Homo sapiens: one gene and its partners. The protein of the gene in region 2 interacts with the protein of the main gene of each other region in a pairwise test. Each region holds a gene or a part of one and is shown on either strand. Other genes may lie near its edges.

Region 1 (3,543 bases), on a different chromosome or scaffold from region 2:
TTGGTTCCTAGAGTGGTGGTGAGTTCCAGCACCTGTTCTGCTCAGTCCCGCCCCTCTTTTTTTCCTAGCTGGTCCTTTCAGTGGGCCAGATACCAGAATCACATGCCCCCAGCACCAGGTACCCTATTTTTTTCCTCTGTTTTCTGCCCACTTTTCTTTGAAGGCCATAAAGACTCTGTGACTTGTGCTGGTTTCAGCCATGACTCCACTCTAGTGGCCACAGGGGACATGAGTGGCCTCTTGAAAGTGTGGCAGGTGGACACTAAGGAGGAGGTCTGGTCCTTTGAAGCGGGAGACCTGGAGGTAAGATCATCAGAGCGGGAGTCAGCTCTGTGGGGCCTTGGGTTGTTGGGGGTGCAAGCTTGGGAGGCCAGTTCTGCCTTTATTGCGCCAAGCCAGCTCTGAGCCAATGCGCCCCAAGGCACAGGAAGAATATCTACCTGCTACCTGGAAAGTCCCCGCGGAACCCCAGAGGCAGGAAACCTTGGGTGGAGCTCATGGGGCAGGCTTCTAGGTGGGATGGGGTGACGGGCCTCCCTGCTGCCCCTTCCTCCCTGTCCAGTGGATGGAGTGGCATCCTCGGGCACCTGTCCTGTTGGCGGGCACAGCTGACGGCAACACCTGGATGTGGAAAGTCCCGAATGGTGACTGCAAGACCTTCCAGGGTCCCAACTGCCCAGCCACCTGTGGCCGAGTCCTCCCTGATGGTGAGAGCACCTCCCTTGAGTGACCTTTCCTGGGTGCAGAGGCCGAATCCCGGGATATACACCTCCCAGAGCAGCCTTCTGGGTCACAGCCGGCAAAATCTGAGGCCTGCTGTTTGCAGTGCTGACCTCCTGGGCCCCAAAGTTCACAGCGCCTCCTTCCTGCTCTGAACTCACCTGTGATTCCTGGGGCAGTGTCTGGGCCCTTCCACTCTTCTTTCCTCTCCCTCTCCCCATTCCCTTGCTTAGTGTATGTGAGCGTGCCCTCTGCCCTCTCTTCATCTGTGCCTCTCTTCAGGGAAGAGAGCTGTGGTAGGCTATGAAGATGGGACCATCAGGATTTGGGACCTGAAGCAGGGAAGCCCTATCCATGTACTGAAAGGTATCAGAGGTGGGGGAAGTGTTAGCCTGGGCCTTTGTAGGGAGGGGCTGAGAACCTGGGGCAGGACTCAGAGGGGAGGTAGGACGAAGCCTGAGCTGCCTCCCTGCTCTATGCTAGGGACTGAGGGTCACCAGGGCCCACTCACCTGTGTTGCTGCCAACCAGGATGGCAGCTTGATCCTAACTGGCTCTGTGGACTGCCAGGCCAAGCTGGTCAGTGCCACCACCGGCAAGGTGAGTGGACCTGGAGCCCGGCTGGGGCCTCCGCTTTCCCGACTCCTCTCCTTCCTTCCTGGGTCTTCACTGTCTCCTCTCCCCACCGTCTTTCTCTCCATCAAGCACCCGGATTCCGTGTCCTCCTCTGATCCTCTCTGGCTTTCAGGTGGTGGGTGTTTTTAGACCTGAGACTGTGGCCTCCCAGCCCAGCCTGGGAGAAGGGGAGGAGAGTGAGTCCAACTCGGTGGAGTCCTTGGGCTTCTGCAGTGTGTGAGTGAGGATGGGGAAAGGGGTTTGTGGGAGGGGCCTGGGCTGGGGGCCCGGGAGGACGGCAGGGCGTGTGAGTCCAGGCCCTCATGAGTCTTCATGGTACGCTCCTCTGGCCAGGATGCCCCTGGCAGCTGTTGGCTACCTGGATGGGACCTTGGCCATCTATGACCTGGCTACGCAGACTCTTAGGCATCAGTGTCAGCACCAGGTATGGGCAGCTGGAGCTGGGGTCCCTGTGGGCTGTGTCCATAGTGGTGGGGAAGCCCAGGCCTCCAGGAGCATCTACCCCAGATCTGGCTCCTGCCTGGCCCTTGTGTGTGGCTGTCCCTCTTTGAGAATTGGGAGCAGATGGCTCTCAGCTCTCCTGCCAACCTCCGCCCTGCCTCTGTCATTCCTCGGGGCAGTCGGGCATCGTGCAGCTGCTGTGGGAGGCAGGCACTGCCGTGGTATATACCTGCAGCCTGGATGGCATCGTGCGCCTCTGGGACGCCCGGACCGGCCGCCTGCTTACTGACTACCGGGGCCACACGGCTGAGATCCTGGACTTTGCCCTCAGCAAGTAAGTGAATTGGCCAAGGGCTGGGATCTTTGTGTATTTGGAAGGTGGCAGTAGTATGTAGGGGACACAGGATCCTTGGGGTGTGGGAAGGGATTCCTAAGGCAGGAATGCAGAGAAGCCTGAGGGTTCACAGCCCAGCCCCCATTCCAGTGGCTGACAGTGACCCTCCGGGGCCCCACGTCTCAGTCATGAGGGAGAGGCTGAGACTGATTTTCCCCATCGGAGTCAGCTCTGCTTCTCCCGTGCTGGGGGCTTCCTCTAATCCCCTCCATGCTGGCTGCAGAGATGTCGGCCCAGTGCTAGGCACTAGGGCCCTAGAACTGAGGGTGTGCTGGAGGAGCCCACCCTAGGGCCCCTAGGTGGTGGGCTTGGGTCCCCCAGTCTCTGCAATCACATGCTTTCTGTTTACAGAGATGCCTCCCTGGTGGTGACCACGTCAGGAGACCACAAAGCGAAAGTATTTTGTGTCCAAAGGCCTGACCGTTAATGGCTGCAGCCCCTGCCTGTGTGTCTGGTGTTGAGGGGACGAAGGGACCCCTGCCCCTGTCTGCCAGCAGAGGCAGTAGGGCACAGAGGGAAGAGGAGGGTGGGGCCCTGGATGACTTTCCAGCCTCTTCAACTGACTTGCTCCCCTCTCCTTTTCTTCTCTTTAGAGACCCAGCCCAGGGCCCTCCCACCCTTGTCCAGACCTGGTGGGCCCTTCAGAGGGAGGGGTGGACCTGTTTCTCTTTCACTTTCATTTGCTGGTGTGAGCCATGGGGTGTGTATTTGTATGTGGGGAGTAGGTGTTTGAGGTTCCCGTTCTTTCCCTTCCCAAGTCTCTGGGGGTGGAAAGGAGGAAGAGATACTAGTTAAAGATTTTAAAAATGTAAATAAAATATACTTCCCAGAGACAGAGTCTGTGTGGATTTTGTGATGGCTGGACCCTAGGAGGAGCTAGCGAGGGCCCCGTCAGGGCAAGGCTGTCCCGCAGAATCGGCTGGATGTTGAGATGTGCCAGCTCCCCATCTCCAGGGGTGGTCTGTGCGCACGACACTTCTTGCCTGCCTGGAGTCGGACTCTGCCTTAATCCACGCGTATGTCTGTAGGTTCTTTCTATTGTTGGTGTGTTGAGCCATTTCCTCCTGCCTCGCCCTGAGATATGGAATGAGATAATCATAAACGGCCAGAGGAGCTTTATTCAGTCAGTGCGGGGTCAAACAGAGGCAGGGTCTCTGATCCAGAGAAGTGGGGCCCGGTAGAGACAGGCTGGATGGCTGAGCTGGACGGATGCTCTGGTAGGAGTCAGCAGAGGCCCTTCCTTTAGTTCAAGTCCAGGTCGACACTGCTTTGGCTGCTTGGGTGGTAGGCAATGCTGGGGCCGGGACTGTCCCGGGAGGCTCTTCCCCACAGCCCCTGCAGGCACCTTTGGGC
Region 2 (7,210 bases):
ACTGTGGTCTCAAACTCCTGCCCTTCTCAAGTGATCCTCCCACCTCAGCCTCCAAAGTAGCTGGGACTACAGGCATGTGCCACCTTGCCTAGCTTCTTTATTTATTTATTGAGACAGAGTCTTGCACTGTTGCCCAGGCTGGAGGGCAGTGGTGCAATCTTGGCTCGCTGCAACCTCTATCTCCGGGGTGCAGGAGATTCTCATGCCTCAGCCTCCTGAGTAGCTGGGATTATAGGTGCCCACGACCATACCTAGGTAATTTTTGTGTTTTAGTAGAGACAGGATTTCACCATGTTGGCCAGGCTGGTCTCAAACTTGAGACCTCAGGTGATTCACCCGCCTTGGCCTCCCAAAGTGTTGGAATTACAGGCGTGAGCCACAGCGCCCGGCCTTCATTTTTAAAGTACATGAAAAAACTATTTATGACAATGTTGAGTTTTACCTAAGCACTGTGCTCCTAGAGAACAGCAATGATTAACCCCTTACCCCCTAACCCCACCTCAACCCCGTCTCTCGGGTTCTGGAAATGGCTCACTGCAATGACTGAGATAAAACTCATGGATTCCCCTCTATGGCGATTCCCCACTATACCCTGTTACTAGACCGGATACAGATAGCCCCAATTCCCATTTGCCTCATAAGTGACTAGCTGAAATGCTTGGCCCATTGATCAGCTGGAAAAAAATGCTCATTAATGAAACTTTGGTTAAGCTTTTGTCCTTCCCCAAGGCCTCTGAATTTTGGCCCACCCTCAGCCTAAACCAGCATGAAATCCCTCTGTAACAGCCCCCTTGAGAACAGGCTGGCCTCAGGATAAAGCAATCTCTGATCTACTGCCCCACCCTGTCACTCTCGTTCATCCCACTTACCTACACCAGGTTCTTTCTAGACTGGTTTACTCCTTCCTATAAAAGAAAATCCCTTTTTGCCTACCCCTTGAGAGTTTGTAGATTTATGGCCTGAGTGTTCTCCCTGTTTACAGAGTCTTACCACCCTCACCCCACCCCAAAATCATCCTTTTAAATAAAATCTCTCTTTATCAAATCTGGGTCTGTTTTTTTATTTGACATAATATGCAACATTCTTTTTTTCTTCTTCAGCTTCTGCTACGGAGTTTTATCCAAGCATAATATATTTTCATGCTTGGTAATATTTTATGAAGCACCCTATTGTACATTTCTGTCACACAATTATGCAGATAAATTTGAACTTGTTAACTCTAAAAAATTTTCTGTGACCATGAGGTTCTAAGGGTTAATTTTTTTTCCTTCTAGATTGAAATGTTGTTGTAATTATTAGTAGTACATATGATTAAAATACATGCATAGCATTTCATTATATGAGAGAATCTTTAAACATACAAGTTAATTAATCTTCATTAAAATGTCATGGAAAATATATCTTTGAAGGAGATGGATTGAGCCAGTTATTTTTCCATAAATTTGTGAGTCCAGAGATGAGTATCACTTTTTGTAAGAATGAGACAGAGGTGAGTCTGTTGTTTTGATTTTATAGTTGTAAGCCTGATAAACATTGTTTACATTAAAACCATAGAGAAATGGGAAGGGTTTTAGTCTGGCAATTCTCCCACTTCTTTTAAATTCCTGATAATTATCTATACTCATGTATTTATTTATTTATTCATTTATTTGTTTACTGGAGACAGGGTCTGTCTGGCTCTGTCACCCAGGCTGGAGTGCAGTGGCTCAATCATAGCTCACTGTAACCTCTAACTCCTGGACTCAAGGGATCCTCCCACTTCAGCCTCCCCAGTAGTTGGGACTGTAGGCACACACCTCCACATTTATTTATTTTTGTGAAGACAGGATCTTGCTATGTTGCCCATGCTGGTCTCAAACTCCTGGCCTCAAGCAGTCCTCCAGCCTTGGTCTCAAGAAAATGTTTTTAATGACCTAACAACATGATTAGATCCTCCTTGGATCTTGGTGAAAGCAAAGAATGAGAAACCACCTGACTTGTAGAAGGATTTCTTGCCCCGTCCTCAACAATAATTAATACATTATTTAGAATTGCCCTATTGTTTCTCCTGGAGACTTTTATTTCCCAAGGTAATGCAGCAGAGCAAGATTTAGAACAGGTGCAGTGTGAATTGCCTTTGAAAAGTGGGAGACAGCTGGTTACACATGAGGAGAGGGAAGCTGAACCCCAAAGACCCCAGGCATATTCTGAGGCCCAGCACCATGGAAGCAGAGGATCTGGATATTGACTCTCTTAAAACTCTCCTTGGTTGGGTGTGGTGGCTCACGCCTGTAATCCCAGCACTTTGAGAGGCCAAGGTGGGTGGATCACGAGGTCGGGAGTTCGAGACCAGCCTGACCAACATGGTGAAACCCCATCTCTACTAAAAATACAAAAATTAGCTGGGCATGGTGGCACGTGCCTGTAATCCCAGCTGTTCCTGAGGCTGAGGCAGGAAAATTACTTGAACCCGGGAGGCACATGTTGCAGTGAGCCGAGATTGTGCCACTGCATTCCAGCCTGGGTGACAGAGTGAGACTCCATCTCAAAAACAAAAACAAACAAAACAAAAAAAACTCTCCTTGCCCCAGATTTACCTCCCACAGTCCCCATGCCTGAAGACCGCTGTCCTATAACCCCTTCCCCTCTGCTCTCTGATCAACGCTGCCTCCTAAGTAGCATTTGAATCTGTCATTTCAAATGCTACTTAGGTGGGGAGCTCTTTATCCTCCACACCACTCTGGACATCATGATCTTCCAAATTTCCACAAACACTCCCCCACTCCTTTCTCCAGTCCTCATCCATTCCTCTCTATGCTGCAGCCAGAACAAGTTTTTTCAAATGCAGATTCACTGGTAAACTATCTATGGCTTAAATCCCTCTGCCTCCCCAAAGCCTTCAGGGGCCTGGGTAAAAGGATTGATCTCTCTTGTGACCTCATCCCTTGTCCTGCTTCCCTCAAATTTGTACTCCCATCAGAAAGAGCTCCTAGCTTATTTCTCATCACAGGTACGTTTCCAAATCACTTCTGCTTGCAAAATGTGAACTAAGAGAAGTCAGACTGCTTAGGTAAGGATCTTTGGATTCTAGGTGTTTCTCCTTAATTTAAGTGTCAATTTCCTTAACTGTAAAACTGAAATAATAGTAAGGTCATTGTACAAATTAACTGAGTATTTTGCCTGGCACATCATTCGTGCTCACATAATACGTGTGAACTGTTTATTATTGTTCTTGTTATTACTCATGTTACACTGAATTTTCTTTCTTTCTTTCTTTCTTTTTTTTTGAGACGGAGTTTTGCTCTTGGTGCCCAGGCTGGATGGAGTGCAATGGCGCGATCTCGGCTCACTGCAACCTCCGCCTTCTGGGCTCAAGCGATTCTCCTGCCTCAGCCTCCCGAGTAGCTGGGATTACAGGCTCCCGTCAACGCCCGGCTAATTTTTGTATTTTTGGAGAGATGGGGTTTCATGTTGGTCAGGCTGGTCTCAAACTCCTGACTTCAGGTGATCACCTGCCTCGGCCTCCCAAAGTGCTGGGATTACAGTCGTGAGCCACCGCGCCCCGGCCTCATGTTGCACTGAATTTTCTGTTAACCTTGCTGTTTCCCTGCTGTTAGATAAACAACTCAGGATGCTTATGTGTTTATTGTGTGCATCCCACTGCCAAGCCCACGTAGGAACTTAATACTTAGGAGTCAAGTGTTGCAAAAGAATAAATGAAAAAGCAGCGCTGACGGAGGAAACCTGACTTTCAAAGTCTCTCTTTAGTGCCTACTGTGTATATTATTTCCTTGAATCCCAGAACACCCGAGGAGGTAAGGGCCGATGTTCCCAATCTGCAGATGTGGGTGTACTCAGTAAGTCATTCGGCCTTTGGTGGTACCAGGCTTACAGGAGCCCACATCCCGACCCAGGTAGAGGAGTGGATTGGAGCCGGGGAACACTGATGGGACCGGGCAGGGACGACAGGAGGTCAGTCTCCCTTCCCTTCTCTTTAAAATTTCCCGCCAGTATGGCCGGCTCGCAGCACGAGTTACGCCCTCTTCAGGAGTCCCTCCCCTTCTGCTCTCGCCCGCCTCCCCGCTGCCAGGCAGGCTCGACCAATCAGAAGAGGTCTTGGGCGGGCGCTGCCGTCCAGCGAGCCAATAGGCGGGCAGTCGGAGCCGGGCTTGCCCGGGCATGTGGGAGCTGCCGGCTTTCCGGACGCCACGTGCAGACCGGAAGAGACACGCGGGGCTTCAGGTGAGATCCAGGACCCTGCACCGGGGCGGCGGGGTCGGGCGGGCTGAGGCCGCGTGTCCCGGGTCGCAGGTCCCCGCGCGTTGTTTCCGCCCCGGCCTGCGGCGGGGACGCCTGAACTGGGCTGACCCTGCCCTACCGGCCCGCAGAAAAGCAGGCCGGGCGCCGCCTGTCTCCAGCCCTCGCTCTGCTCGGGGGTCCAGGGCCAGAGGGGGCGGCGCTGGTCGTTGGGACTCGGCCCAGCTGCCGCGGCCAGCAAGTGACCAACGCCCGAGTCCTTCCCGGTGAGATCAGGCCTCCCACGCGTCACGCCTGGGAGAACGCCAGCCGGCGGGGAGGTCGTGCCAGGATAGCAGACTTTAGTTGTTGTCGTTGTTCCGTGGACTTTTTAGCAGCACAGGGGACCTTATCGAGCCAGGTTTTTTCAGGTTTGGGCGATTATCAGAATTGTGGCTTGAGGGTAGGGGTCGTCCGCGCTCTTTTTAAAAATCTAGATTCTCAGGCCCCTTTCCCCAAAATAGCAATTAGGACGGTGTGGGAGTGGGCCTGAAAATCAGCCTTTCATCAGATGTCATATGGTAATTAACTACATTTGGGAAGCCCTTATCTAATTCACAGCCCTCGGTTGATGGTGAAGAGACGTGACTTGCCCCAGATCATCTAGCTACTTAGTGCCAGAGGAGGGTCTAGAACTGCCCTCTGCCCTCTTGATCAGCCAGCAGGTTGGTGGCTCTCATGCCACCGAGGATTCTGACTTCTTGGTTCCTTTGGGGCCTTTGCTCCATTGACTCTGCAGCTGGGACCCTTTCTTTAGGCCAGACCCCCTCCCTGCCTGAAGGCCGGGTGTCTGACCCCCAGAGCGCTGGGTCCAGGCTAGAGAAAGGCTTGTGTTTGTCCTTGTTGAAAGGGTTGTTTTATCTGAGCGGAACTTCTCTCCAGCTTCACTGAGCTACATTTGGGTCCCCAAAGAGGTGTGTCCTTGATGACTGTTGGTTTTGACGTGTCAGCATGTAGCAGGAGGAGCCGCGGACAAAACCCCACAGAGGTAGTGAAGGAATTGGCTTTTAATCAGCTGGAAGCATCGGCAGACTAGCATCTCAAAATCCGAGCTTGTTGAGTGCACAGTTTCTGTCCCTTTTAAGGACTCACAACACTAAAGATTTTACAAGAAAGGGCCATGATTGATTGAGCAATCTAGGGGGTATGTGACAGGGACTGCATGCACCGGTAGTCAGAGTGAAACAGAACAGAACAGAACAAGAGATTTCACAGTGTCCTTCTATACAATGTCTGAAATCTATGGATAACATCGGTTGCTAGGTCATGGGTTTAATTTTAACTATCAGGCTAAGGTCAGGCAGGCCCAGGCCTGGTTTTGGGTCTGGTTTTGGGTCTGGTGCGTGGCGCCGGGCTGCCTGCCTTTGGTTTTGCTTCCTTGTTTCTTCTTAAAACAGGTACTGAGTATAAAATAATACAGAACAATATGAGGGGGAGGTCTCTTTCTCTCTTCTCTTAAGCAAGGTCAGGGTGTTTGGAAAAGGACTACTTTCCTCTCTTGAAATAGGAGGCTACAGAGACCTTTTCTCAGATAACTTAATTTCTGGCTTCTTTAAAACCTTGCCAGTAGGATCAGGAAAGCCACCCACCCTACTCCTAGCCTCAGCCCCTCACAGAGAAAGGAGGGGACTATCCGCCAGCCCCCTTTCCCAAATTAGTTATTAGCAGGGTGGGCATTGGGCTTCTTAGGCTTTTTTCTCCCATTGCTGGGCTGAGGCAGATTAAGGTTCTGAATTTGTCAGTTCTAAGATGTGACTGTCAATATGAGGAAGTTGGTTACAGTTAAGACCTTTTTAAAAGAGAGACCTTTTCTCCTGGAAAGGATGGGATGAGCAAGCAGGGTGGATGAGTCAGGATGGGTCAGGTCTGGATGAGTCAAGTCAGGATGCGGTGCCCTGCCCTAGAGTGTGGGGATTCTTTATGCAAATGCTGGCATCATCAAACCTGGCATTTCACCTCACCTCCCATCCCCTTCCCATTTCTCTTAATCTCTGCTGCTACTGCTCAGGTTTTCATCTTCTCCAGACCTCTTTCTACACCCTTCTGAAGAGGACCTGCCACATGCTAGCTTCTAGGCTGGCTGTTGGGGAAGGTACAATCAAGGCTCTAACCTGCCTTCTTACAGCTCTGAGGTAGACTGTGTGTACCAATGGACTTTGAAGGGTGTAATAATTCTCAAATTGTGCTATAAGAGCTCAGCACAGAGGGATGAATTTCTTTGCTCCCCAGCTAGACTTAGTGTCCTGAGTCAGGGCTACTGTGGGATATTTCAGTGACCTCCATAGGTGCCTCTGGGGCTCCCCCACTCACTTGGCCAGTAGAGACCAATTCAGGGGACACCAGATTGCGGTAGGGGTGGCTTGTGGAAGGGCCACCAGAGTAGGAAACAGAAGATGAAATGGTGCAAAGGAGAGAGGAGCGAGGAGCAGTGCCTCCAGCATGACCCGCCTTATGCTCTACACCCCAGTGACTTGAGGCTGCTGGTGGGCCCTCTTCCTCCACCCTGGGTTAGTCCTTTTTAAGGCCTTTGCCCCTAACATGGCCACTGATTCTTCTCCCTTCTACCTGGAAGGTTACTGTTGTACATGCACACAGATGTAGCCTCTTCCAGGAAGCCTCCAGAGAATTGTCCTCCAGCCTGTTTTGCCTCCCTAGCACCTCTGCTTCAGCCCTTAACACACTTTATGCTTGGTTTCTGTCTCCACCATGAAACTAAACTTCTTGGAGTCCAGGATCCACCTGTGCAGCCGCCCAGCATCTGGCACAGTGGAGACCCGAGAGAGCCTCAGTATGGCATTGGCCTGTGCAACCCAGTGGGACAGAGTTTCTTCCAGAAGGGCTTCTGGGTGGTGGCGGAACAGTAGCTGAGTCTGAAAGAGCAGGAGGGCTGTGAGTGGGAAGGGAGGCTGTGGCTTGGGAAAGGGCAGTGAGTCCA
Region 3 (6,926 bases), on a different chromosome or scaffold from region 2:
TGATTAACTGAGACTTCCTGTGCAATTCCTAGCACAGACTCTAGCCTATAGAGGAGTCTCAGCAAATGACAGTGGAGTCTGAATCTCAGTCTCAGGGTGTTACTAGAAATCTGTAAGCTAGAGACTTAGAACAGGAAGAAGTCAAGGGAAAACATAAAATGGTAAACAGAGCTGGGCCTGCTCTAGCCACTTGCATTTTTCATAAAACTGCAACAAATGAAAAGCTCTAGCATTGTGCTGGTTGGAGAATCTGGACCCAGAGAGCAGGCTGGGAGGCGGAACAGCTGGGGCCTGGTCCTGAACTCCATGGCATCTCCCCAGACCCTCTGGTCACCTAAATTCTCAAAATCCCAAGGCCACTCTCAACCACTATCTTTCTCTTGCTATGATCAAAGGGTCTGCTCCTGCCTCCCCATATCCCTTTCAGCCTCTCAGCTTGGACCCTGGGCTTCCTGGGACTTGTGACTCAGCAGCCAAAGTTAAAGTTTTCCTGAGCTAACAACTAGAACTCATCTTCTGATGCAGCCTGCAGGGAAGGCATAGTAATTCATCTGGGCCTGCCGACTCTCACCCCTCAGGCTTTTCTCACCCTCAACCTGGCCATCCAGGCACCTGTCATTCCAGATTATGGGTATCTCTGTGGAGTCAGAACACCTGTGCCTCCCCCTACCAAGATGTGCTGCACACATACAGCCCTGCCCCACTTCCAGCAACTTCCACCGTCACCCCCAGCATTTCTGCCCTGAACAGACAGGAGAGTCAGCTTCCATCCCAGATGGAACTCCACAGGTATGTTCTCACCCTCTAGGCTCTGAGGGTCAGGACCAGCATTAAGGCTCCACTGGAGATGGATCATTGGTGGAAAAGACGGAAGGGAGCTGGGGAGTAGGGAGAGGCAGGAAGAGGCTCCCTGATAGGGAAAATTCTGTGTCTGGTGTGTATGCGTGGTGTAGGAGGGGATGGCACCAGAGAACCAGAGTCTTATAATAATAACTTGTTAGGCCTAATGTGTTCTGCGAATCTCCAAGGCAGGGAATCAACTTCCCCAACCTCCATCTCTGTACCACCCTCTAAAAGTTCTTTATGTCTAACCTCAGTCCCTTCTGCTGCAGTGATCAAACCATTGACTAAACATTGCCACAACTAGGGACAGCAGCGCCTCCTACGACCCTCACAGGGCTCAGGTGGGCTCCGCTCACCCCAAGGCTGGATACAGCCCCCTCACACACACAAGCCTCCCCTTGGCCCACCGCCCCCTCCCCCGAACTGCTCCTCACGGGTATCTACCTCTATATACGACCTTTAACCTCAAGTGAAAGAAAACAGGACCCTGGGACCTGCAGCCGCTGGGGAGTTTACCCCACCTGTACCTGCTCCCAGAACCGCCGGTCCCTGGCTTCTCGTCCCTGGAGCAGCGCGTGGGGACCAAATTCCCGCCTCTGGCAGCCCCTTTCTCCCCTTCCCGCGCCAGCGGTGCAGAGCCACTGAGCAACTCCCGAGTGCTCCTAGGCCCAGCGCTACTGGGGTCGGGGTGGGGGAATAAGGAGGGATGGAGCCTGCAGAGTCTCCTGGAACCCCGGCGTCCTGGTCCTTGCAGGATCTCCCCACCCCCACTCCGCATTATCTCCAGGCCTCTCACTCCCCCAGCCCCTCCCCCATGGAGGGGACGCGACCCAGTACTCCCTCCCGCCCCGGACCCTCCAGATATCGGGACAAAGAAGCCCCGCGGCAGCCGGCGAGCGTGGCTGCCGGGCACTGGTGCAGCAGGTAAATACCCTGGGCCGGCCGCCACGTCGCCGACCCTCCCGCAGCTCCCGCCGCCAGGGCGCGACACGCCATTCCCCCTGCCGCGACTCCCCGGAGACGCCGCAGCTGCGCGCCAGGGTCCAGCCCGGCGGGGATCGGGCTCGGGACTCACCCGCTCCGGCGAGCTCGACTCAGCTCGGGCTCCCGCCTCGGCTAGGCAGCCGCCTGGGGCTGCGTCCCGCGCAGGGTCAGCGCGGATCGGGCAGGAGGCGCCCTCTTGGCAAAGTCGGCTAGAGGCGCCAGCTCAGTCGCGCACCGGCCCCGAGTCCGAGTCCGAGAGGGACGGAGGGAGCGAGTTATAGGGGCGAGAGGGGGTGGGGGAAGGACGCCGCAACACCCTCATACCCTCCCCCACCCCGCCCCCTGTCCCCCGCCCCCCAGCGGAGACGCGGAAAACCACTCGCAGCCGGAGAGACACCCGGACACAAAGACCTCGTGCCAGCCGCAGACCCAAGTTTCTCCCGGAGAGACTGGGGGTCCGCCCGCGTTCACCGCGAGAACACACAAACGGACGGACAGACCGACGCACGGACCCGGGGACCTCGACACTCGCTAGGAGGCAAGCCCTATTCCTCAGCCGGGCGCCCCTCGTCTCCCGCTCTCTCCATGGACCCCTCTCCTGGCAAATCGCCCGCAGAGCGAGCTTGGAGATGCGAGGGAAACTGAAGCCCCAAGGGTGCCCCGTCCTGGGAGCCTGGCTGTCTGCGGGGTCCCCCGCATTCCGCAGTAGTAATACAGGAGGGCCGGGGGCTTCTACCCCAACCTCCGCTCCCCTTCGGGTCTCTCCTGGCTGTGCAAGCGATGGGCCAGAGGGCTGGACGAGGCTGGCTCCCAATCCAGAATCCCGAGCTGGGGAGTTCTCTCTAGGTTCTGGGGCTCCTGGGACCGGGGCTTTGGGGAAGGGAGATCGCAGGACGGATATCCAGGAAGGGAGGGGGCCCTGGGTCTCCCGTTACCTGCGCCTGCCGCGCTGGGACTCCGCTCTGGGGGCTGCAGCTCGAAGCTCCGACAAGTCTCCACGTCCAGCCCGAGAGGGGGCGGCCGGGCCCGGCACAGCGAGGCGAGGACCGCGAGCGCCTCCTGGCACCGAGGCCCGCCGGCCCCCCACACTCCGCTCATGCCCTAGACACCCAGGCTTGCCGAGCAGCAGCTCGAACCCGCGCCCCGGCCGCACTGGGGCGGGGCACGACGGCCCCAAGAAGACCCTCCCTGCAGCGGCCCCCTGCGGCTCCGCTCTGCTTTTAATCACTTCCCCGCAGGGTCCCCGCCCCTCACGTGGCATCCCGCGGCAGCTGGCGAGTCTGGCGCCTCGCGGCCGCCCCCTCTACACTCAGGGACTGGCCTGAGTCCGGGGGGTGGGGGTTTCGAGGCGGGAAGCCGGGCTGTCCCGAATCTCGGAGGGTGCAAGGCCAGGAAAGAGTCCGGGTTCCCACTCCGCATTCACTGCCTGGTGTGACCTTGGGCGTCTCTGAGCCTCAATTTTCCTCTCCGTAAAGGAGGTGTAATGATTTTAAGTACTTCACGGACTCCCTGGGGATAGAAAGATCGTGTTTGTGAAAACACTGGGTAAACTGCCACATGCCACACGAATGACAGAGAAATAGATAACCCCGTAACAGAAAGAGCGACGGTCAGGCAGGGTCTGGGAGGACCTTGGCCGAGGTTCCTGACGGGAGCAGTTAGACTGGCCCCCGAGTCCCAGCTTCGGAGGTAGAAGACCCCAAGACAGGCGGGCGATGCGAACTGCAAGACTTTCCGAGCTCCGCAATCCTGCGGTCCGCGGTACCCGCATGTTGCTATGGCGACGGGAGGCAGCGGCCGTCTCTCTCCATGGCAACGGGAGGGAAAAGTTTCTGGCAAACAGGAATGGGGGGTCATTTCAAGAGGGCGCAGGGCGCTCAGTTCCGCCGACCCACCTCCTTGCTTCGGTGAAACAGCACCAGAGATCATGTATCTTTCTGCTAAGCATAACAAGAAAGACAGAAAGCTCAACGGGAGGATTGAGGCTAGACTTAAAGTAGAGATCCCCTCAGAAACTGTGGAGTGAGGCCCAGGAACAGATCGGCTGAGAGGCTTCGAGCTGCCTCACTCAGCGCTGGAAGTCTGTGAGCCATGGTCAGGGAGGCCGGGGGACCAGCGCCCTGCAGGGGCCTATCTCGGGAGTCTCTTGATCTACACCTGTCGGCGGTGGGGCCCCTTCTGTGTGGGGCTCGCCTGAAGCCCCAGACTCAGGTCCATTTGCTCTCCCGGAGCTGGGAAGGAAGCTTTAGCTGCAGCCCCTGGAGGCTGCTGGGTTGGTGTATGCCCGAGTGGCTGGCGAGGGAGAAAGGTCTTGCCTCTTAATTAACACGCTTATTGGAAGTGACTCGGGCAGTGACTCACGTTCCGGAGGGAGGAGATTCGGAGCCTTAGCTCCTGGCGGTCTCCACTGCGCGCCATCTGTGCCAACCGGCCCTTGGACTTGCGATCCCCTAGCAGCTGGTGCCTGGGGCACCAAGGGCTAAGGCAAGGCCTGTGAGGACCCTGGCCCAGCCAGGCGGCTTTTCCACCGTGAGGCGCCCCCTGGCTCTGTCCACGGTGCTGAAGACCCAGTTGGTGCTACCATCGCGTGGGCATAAGTTTAGGGGACGAGGGAGAGGCAATTGTTGAAGGTTCGCAGCTTCCACCCTGACCCCTGTGCCTGTGATAGCAGAAGGCTAGGAACTCAGGCAGGGACCAAGCAGACACGACGCAGGCGATACTGTGCAATCCGGGCTGCCTTCCTGCTGGAGGTGTTTGGTTGCTGTTCCAAGAACAAGTGGGGCTCTGGCATCCCTATGCGCCTTCCTGGTGCTTCTGAAAACCCACCTGAGGAGCCTAGAGGCCCCATTAATTTCTTTTCCATCACCCGATGCAGATCTCAGCACCCAGAAGAGCCTCTGGCTAAACGCTTATTAGCAGTTTCCCAAGTGGCAGGTTTGTGTTTATGTAAAATACAAATGGAGAACTGCTCTTTGCCCGTGTTTATGGCAACTCTGTCACTCCCCTGCTATTTCTCCCTCCCCCTCGCGAGTTCCTGGGGGAAATTCACAGAACAAAGCACCTTGTTTTGCCTTTGCAGAGAATGAAAAAACACAGGACCATTCCAAGGGCCCAGACCTGTGATGCAGGGAAATCAATATTTTGCTTACATCGAGTGGGGGAATTTGCATCTAAACTGAAGGCAAAGGAGCTTGTTTGGAGCAGAGCAGGTGGCAGGAGCCGAGAATTAACAGATAATTTCTCATTGTTCCTGGATTCAGCCTCCACACTCGGCAGGCGCTTCTGCAGCGTCTCTGGCGCCCCGGCAGCAGCTCCGGACCTGGCATTTCTCAATCTAGCAGTGTGAAGGAGCTGCTGCCCTGATAGGGCTGCAGAAACAGGTTAGGGCCCCTGGGTCAGTCAATAGCTATTGAAGTTGGATTGTAGGAGTTAGCGTGTGTGGGAGAGACAGAGATGAGAGAGACAGAGAGAAAGAAACAGAGACAGAAATAGAGGCAAGAGACAGATACAAATGAGAGAGACAGAGGATGAGACAGAGATACAGAGAGACAGTTATAGGAAATAGAGAACAGAGAAACAGACAGGGAGACAGATGTACAGGTAAAGAAACACACATTCAGAAGGAGACATTAAGGTAAAGCCTCACCCTAGTTGTCCTCTTTAGCCCGCTACCTCCCCCAGCCCCCAGGTCAATTGCTGATACCACTGTGGTCACATAACCAGCCACAAAGCAGAAAAATTCTTCATGTAATGATGGAAACTTTTTTGTCTCTCAAACCCCTTTGCCCTGCAAACCCAACCCCCAAACACACCTTTGCTTCTTCCCATATGAAGAGATAAAATTCAGAGTCCCAGGGTCCCACCAAGAGCTGGGAGGGAGGATCCAGGGTCCCACTCAAACCCAGAGAGGGAAAGAGGTGGAAAGAAGTGGAATTGTTGCCCTTCAATTCTATCTCTCAGAGAAATCCCATTCTGAGTTTGGGTTTAGGGGTGGGGAGGAGAGAAGCAGGAGCAGAGACAGTTAAGCATGGAGTGGTGGCAAATAAGTACATTGGACAGGGCCTGGGAGGGCTGGGATTCAGGGCTGGTGCACCAAAGCAGCCACGAGGCTGTCACATCCCCTATCTGGGGCTCAGTGTGCCTATGTGAAGTTGGATTAGGAGCTCTTTGAGGCTCCTTCCAGCAACAGCACTCTAGGATTTTACATGAGGGAGAAAAGAGGAGGCTGGGGCAAAGGGAGGAGGGAGGCAGCCTTTCCTGGCTCTGAAGCTGAGGGTGGTTTTACAGAGGCCAACTCACTTTCAGCTCCCCCTCCCCCATCGTTCTCATTGCGCCTACAGCCATGCATGGAGCATCCCGAGTCTGGGCACCTCCAGACCAGACTTCTCAGATGCAGGAAGAGGAGCTGGGGTGGAATGGGAGGCAGAATGAGAGGAGGTTTGAGACAGAAACAAGAGGCCTCCCACTCCTATGCCCTCCTCTCTTCGGAAATAGCCAATGTGCTCATCTCCTGCCCCCAACTTAAGTCTCTGCCCTTGGGCAGGCTCCCACTCTGCTCTGAGCAGCAATGTCTTGTTGAGTTATGTTGCAAATAAAATAAATTAAAACCAAATAATAATTTCTTTAAAAAAATTGAACCTTGGTAGGAAATTGCTAATGCTGTAGGCGGGAAGAATGAGCTCCTTTGACATGAGCCGATGTGTCATATTGTCTTTCCATCTCAATGCAATTTCTAAATAGGGAGCCCTTTCCCCATTCCCTCCTCCCTCCAAGTCCCCAGCAGAAATGTAAAGGGAGCAGTCTGACGATTGTAGCTGGATTGTCTGACGTGCAGGGAGAGACACAGAGGAATAGACACACAAGCACACCTACAGCTTTGCCACGTGGATAGAAGCTAAGGAGGCTCTGACCCAACCCTGAGGGCCCCTGGTCTCTTCTCCCCACCTCCCCCATCCTCTGCTTACTGAGGCATGTAGCCGCCTTCTGCAGAAGTGTTAATTTACTCAAAAAAACAAACATCAGTTGAACCTAGTCTACTGCAGAATCAAGTTGAGGTCCTGTATTTGAGGGTATAACTTCATATCATTATTTGGAATAAA

What was found.
Region 1: the proteins of AEN (region 2) and AAMP interact in binary tests that used the Homo sapiens proteins (3 or more experiments, as listed by UniProt).
Region 3: the proteins of AEN (region 2) and SYT6 interact in binary tests that used the Homo sapiens proteins (3 or more experiments, as listed by UniProt).

What each region holds. Positions count from the first base shown.
Region 1 is NC_000002.12:218,263,607-218,267,149, reverse strand, and holds the end of AAMP (angio-associated migratory cell protein), read left to right. Parts: intron 1-163; coding exon 164-303; intron 304-562; coding exon 563-707; intron 708-1,002; coding exon 1,003-1,086; intron 1,087-1,203; coding exon 1,204-1,319; intron 1,320-1,467; coding exon 1,468-1,571; intron 1,572-1,688; coding exon 1,689-1,779; intron 1,780-1,975; coding exon 1,976-2,130; intron 2,131-2,541; coding exon 2,542-2,617; 3' UTR 2,618-3,021; downstream 3,022-3,543. Other genes in the region: GPBAR1 (G-protein coupled bile acid receptor 1), read right to left, coding at 3,433-3,543. UniProt on the Homo sapiens protein: Plays a role in angiogenesis and cell migration. In smooth muscle cell migration, may act through the RhoA pathway.
Region 2 is NC_000015.10:88,617,162-88,624,371, forward strand, and holds the start of AEN (apoptosis-enhancing nuclease), read left to right. Parts: upstream 1-4,178; 5' UTR 4,179-4,221; exon of another isoform or gene 4,222-4,502; intron 4,503-7,210. UniProt on the Homo sapiens protein: Exonuclease with activity against single- and double-stranded DNA and RNA. Mediates p53-induced apoptosis.
Region 3 is NC_000001.11:114,150,848-114,157,773, forward strand, and holds the start of SYT6 (synaptotagmin-6), read right to left. Parts: upstream 3,023-6,926; 5' UTR 2,926-3,022; coding exon 2,763-2,925; intron 2,076-2,762; exon of another isoform or gene 1,919-2,075; intron 1,594-1,918; exon of another isoform or gene 1,371-1,593; intron 1-1,370.